Regions from separate parts of the Homo sapiens genome. Here region 2 is linked to region 1. A link means that fine-mapping ties the variant in region 1 to the expression of a gene that starts in the linked region. Tissue or cell type: testis. Region 1 holds a variant in brackets; the other region holds the start of a gene. All regions are shown on one strand. Distances are between the middles of the regions.

Evidence for each region. PIP is the estimated chance that this variant, and not a neighbour inherited with it, causes the effect.
Region 2: it holds the start of HDAC9, and the variant in region 1 is fine-mapped to the expression of HDAC9 in testis (GTEx, PIP 0.94).

Annotation. Positions count from the first base shown.
Region 1 is chr7:18,150,738-18,153,422 of GRCh38, forward strand. It overlaps a transcript of HDAC9 not described here. Among named protein-coding and RNA genes, the nearest start is that of MIR1302-6, 25 kb to the left of the region's middle. The variant G/A (reference allele first, on the strand shown) is at 992.
Region 2 is chr7:18,494,186-18,496,870 of GRCh38, forward strand. It overlaps HDAC9 (histone deacetylase 9), which reads left to right and starts at 1,564. Exons shown (of 26, transcript NM_178425.4): 1 at 1,564-1,838; 2 at 2,077-2,139. The coding sequence starts at 2,118. RefSeq lists an enhancer at 1,293-1,342.

The DNA of each region.
Region 1 (2,685 bases):
TTCCCAATATCACTCGATTCTCAGACTCTTGAAGATCAGAGATAAAATTAAGTGCATCTTTTATGCCCAAAATAAGTGTGTCAAGATTTTTTCACTATTTTTTTCTTAAGGAAGTATTGCAGAGGAACTTAAGAGTGAGTGACAGTTGACAAAAAGAAATGGTTGCCTGGAAACTGGCAATTTAAATAACTAGGAGCTGATATGATTTACCAGCCTGATAAACAGCTAGGACTTTAATACAATCTAAAGGGCTGCTACAGATGTTGGATTGAGCTATTTATATGTGTTAATCTGTCTCAGTCTATTTTAATACATGCATATATATATGCATTTTTTTTTTGCAGAACTGGAATATAAAAGCAAAGGCTGTATCTCTTCCCCTATATGACATTAATAGAAATAATAGAAATTGCCTTCAATTAAATGAATTGTTTTGGTCCCCTTGTTTTTATATAGATTTTCAGTTTCAAAGGTGGCTTTCTCACTCAGGGGGAATAGATGTCTTGTGGATTGAGTGCGGAGTTTGTTTTGAGTTCTGACACTGTAATTATATACTTAGTAATTGTTACCTTGTTTTTTCAGGTTTTATCATTTGAAACTTTACTCCATTTGTTGAGATGGAGTTGCAGATACTTTTGATTCTTCACAGGAATAATGAGGTTTAATAGGATTGGTTCTGAGTGAGTTAGCTTAATCAAGTAGCCTGTTTTACTGATGGGATCATTAAGAGGCTTTATCCTCTCATGGGCCAGTTAGTTTCCTGGAGCAGGTGAATGTCTTTGCAGCCTCCTTGATCCTCACTAGACATCTTTCACATGGTTCTTCGAAGAGATGATAGAAAAGCTGCAGCCTATATTGTACTGTAATCATAGTATAGTAACCCAGAGTTCCCTCTTCTGGCAGGAGGTCAGTACTATCATTTTGTGTATAAATAACTGATGGCATATTTGTGAAGCTGTCTGTATAAAATTCCACTATCTCCTTGGGAATG[G/A]AATGTGCTACATACAACAAACTATCATCATGTTACTAGCATAAAACTTGAGATAATTTTGAGGATAATTTTGACAGTGGAAATGTTTTATGATATGAGGAATATAAAAATAGATCATTTAATTCACAGAATAGTTGAAGGACACAGCAAGGTAATTTTTAAATTGTTTCTTGCAATTGTTTACAATTCACTGAGCGTAGTAGCTATGACTTGGAGAACTTCTGGGAAAGGAGGACATTTTTACCACCCATGCATGTTTGAATAAATTTCAGTCTCCTAAAGCTGTGCACCAGCTCTTTCATGTATCTTCCCTTCTACCTCTAATCACAGTGAGAACTCCCTACTCCTAATTCCTGTAGCACTTGTGCTGTCCCATTTTTTTTTTTTTAAAGAAAATAGCTATCAGGGCTGCAGTGTTTCACAATTTGAGGGGCAGTTTGTAACACAGAGGCCCTGAATGTCATAATGTCTCACATATATTGAGCAGTATGCTAAGTATTTTAAATATATTATCACTCATCCCTAGTGACCCTGCAAGTAACTATTAGAGCCAGCAACTTACCAGTGAGGAAACTGAAGGTCAGAATGGTAAATAATTTGCCTGTGAAAATACGGCAATTGGAATTTGCATTAAGGTCAGCCAGACTCCAAAGTCAGGGTTCTTTTCCTTGTTCTGCTCTCTATATATGTTTGTTATTTTGTTTCTTAATTGTTCATATGCATATGTTGTTTCTCTTGTGCTTCTCATACTTTAGCTTAGTTAAGAATCACCATGGAAACTTGTTTAAAATGCTGTTTCTGGGCCCTTGTCCTAAAGATTCTGATTCAGAAGGTCTCAGATAAGTCCTGAGTGTCTGCATCTGCATTTTCTGAGGGGTTCTTGGACTGTACTCTGAGAAATCACTGGTATGAAATCTGGGAGACAGGAGCTATCTGAACAACTCCCCCAGCTCTGAACATTCATAGCAAGCACTCAATAAGTACATGTTACATTCAAGCAGAGCTAACTTGCTCCTGTGCAAAATATAGCCCACAAGGTTCCATAGCATGAACTTGGATTGTTCTTAACTTGAATATAAAGTTTGTGTAAGTTAGAAAAGTCAATACTAATTATAGGGTGAAGTTCAAAGAACAATATCTGATATGATTCATTTTTTACAAATTGGTGTATTCTGGAAATTTAGGTGTATCCTAAATTAGGTGTATTGGTGTGTTTTCACAAGGAAGTTTCTGTAGACAAAGGAACAGCATTGGCTAGAAAAGAACCAGAGAGGGACGGAATTGAAGTTAGTTGTAGGTATAAAGTAGGGTTCTTTGGAAGGGGAGGAGGAGATGGAGATAAAGATGGGAGATGAGGTTGGTTCAACTCATTAGTGAAGGTAAGTTCTTTGGAAAGGGGCCAAATAACCAGTGGCCTAATCAATTGCAAGGGATTCTGGAGAAACCTAGTAGAAAAGAGGGTCACAGATGTGTTAGCGGTGAAAAGAATTGGACCAAACGCACAGACAAAGCAAGGAAAGAATAAAGTGACAACAGCAGAGATTTGCTGAAAATGAAAGTACACTCCACGGGGTGGGAGTGGCCTGAGCATAGGGGCTCAAGAGCCCTGTTATGGAATTTTCTGGGGTCAAATACCCTCTAGAGGTTTCCCATTGGTTACTTGATATACACCCTATGTAAATGAAGTAGCAGCC
Region 2 (2,685 bases), 340 kb after region 1:
AAAATTGTAACTTACATATCCAAATACAATTTTTCAAGAAGTAGAGTATTCAGTAGAAATTAATCTGTGAAAGAAGAGGAATTCAGCAGTGGCCTATTTGATGAATGATTTAACGTGCTTATTTCTTCCCTTTCATCAAAACTCTGTGTCCCCTTGTTTGCCCCCTCTGACTTCATACTCTGGAGTTGACCAAGATCCCTCTTCCATCGGATTGTTCTGGGAATTTTGAAATAATCTGCTTTTTCCTCTCTTTCCCCTGTTGCTTCTGATGCCTTAGAATTACATTTTCCTCGCTGATTTAGTTTAGAAAAGAGAAAAGAGCTTCCATGACTAGTAGATTATCACTTTTGGGTTTGCTCTTGGAAGTGACAAGATGCTAGGATCCCTCTTTGGAATGTAAAATTTATCTCTTATATAGAAAGGATATAAATGTAGCACCAGAGACTATAAAACTCTGATACTATCTACTGTACTGTATAGCTGAACGCCACAATGTGTCTGGTAATCTATTGACTATCATAAATGCTATTTCTACAGAAAAGTTAGGAGGTCCATATTTCGGGCAACCAATGTATAGCTGAATGCAGAACAGTCATAGTTGGGTACTAACCATATATATGATTTATCCATCAACAGGTGCATATGCTCAGAAATTCTGTATCCATAAGAAATCAGACTACTTTCTTTTCCTTTTGCAAGTAAATTGAATTTAGCCTGAGAGGCTGAGGGGAAATTTTCACATATAAGCCACGGTTTTGTGTTTTGTGTTTTGTTTTGTTTATAGATATAGTACTAACTGGATGGATGCGATAAAATTCATAGGTGGTACTAAGATACAATAGGATTTGTGAAATGGACAATTGTCTTGCATAAATAGCAAGTAAAAAATCAAGCCTGTCCTTCATAAAAATTTTATTCTGGGGTGTGCTTGTTTTCCAAAAGTACCTCTGCTAAATCTCCTGTTAGTCCTGAAACTAGAAGGCAGAAAAGCTTCTAGTGCTACAGCCAACTGCAGTGTAGCCTGAGAAACAGGCAACAAAAATAGAACACCAGGATTGCTGTGCGTGGGTGAGGCAGAAACCACATTATGAGCAAAAGCTTCCAGTATTATTTTAGAACCAATACAGAGCTCTGTACTTCTCTCCTCTCTCTTCCAAAAACACATACTACAAAAATAAAATGAAATGAAATGTATGTGCATTTGCCCTCTTAGAATTATGATTCTTAATTTTTTTTCTTGCCTTCCTTTCTTTGGAAGCGAATCGCCAGTATGGAAACACAGTGTGTAAAGCAAGCTTCGAGAGAGGAAAGAGTTAATTGGTTTTAAGGCCCTGCGATAGAGAATTATGGTTGGAAAGATAGAGGCTGGACAGCTGGGTTTGCTGGGGTATTTTTAAATGCATTAATGCAGGCTCCAATCACTCGGCCATGCTTGACCTATTTTTGGCTCAGGCCGACCATTGTTCTATTTCTGTGCCTGTGGGCCATGCTGTTGTTGATTCATATGCAAATGGATTATCACTCGCTTTAGCCAACTTGAGCTGAGAGAGACTGAGAAAGGGGGAAGAGAGGCACAGACACAGATAGGAGAAGGGCACCGGCTGGAGCCACTTGCAGGACTGAGGGTTTTTGCAACAAAACCCTAGCAGCCTGAAGAACTCTAAGCCAGGTTTAATTGGTTTCTTTTTCTCGTGGGTAGACTTAATAATTTTCTACGTATTCTGACAAAGAAATAACCCCGAAGCACGTTCCTATTTCCCACCTGCTTGTAGTTTCCGGGATAACCTAAACTCCAGAGAGCTATAGCATCCACTCTGTCCTTTCTGCTTTGCACACAGGTTGGTAACATGGGAAAAGTGTCCAGGTCTTTTTAAAAGTGGATGCCCATTTGAGCAGAAAGGAAATCATTGTCGAAGTTGATCCTCTGCTGCTTCTCCTCAGGGAGGAGGGAGAACCAGCGAGGGTAGCTCCTGGGGCCGGTGCACTGAGCAGTGATGAATGTTTCATGTAGCTGAAGTAAGAGTGACTGGAATATGCTGCAGACAATTTACGAGAGTGACTCCTGTTTTTCCTCAGATGGGGTGGCTGGACGAGAGCAGCTCTTGGCTCAGCAAAGAATGCACAGTATGATCAGCTCAGGTAAGATCCTCTTTCATAACTGAGACGTTTTAGGTTTGAAAGGGGGCTGGCTTGGGAAATGCAGCTAAGAAAAGCACCTCTCTTAAGGAAATTGCTGCTTTTTCGTGTTGATGTTGCTATTTTCTTGGTGCGTCTGTAGGGTTTAACTTAGATCCCTTCCATTACTGTTTCTGTGCATATTCAGTCTGCTTAGGGACAGCAGCTTCTGAATGAAATTGCAAACTATTGCTTCTGATGAAAGATGAGACTGAGATAAGTAAAATGTAGTTGGGGGTGTTTTGCCTTTACTATGCAACTAGAAAAAGGAGCTGTGTACTGATTGTAAGCCTATTCTAATAGGACTTTAAAAATCAGGTAAGTTCATATTGGGGCTTCAGTTTAAACTGCAGCCCCGCTAGCCTGACGATTTTATATTTACTCTGTGCCTACAGAAGCACATCTATTTATAGACCTACCTTCTAAAATGTGTTTGCCACAGAGTTATAAAGGTAGTTTTCTTTTTTCCATTATGTGGCTTTTTCTCATCAGCCCCAAATGAAACTGTTT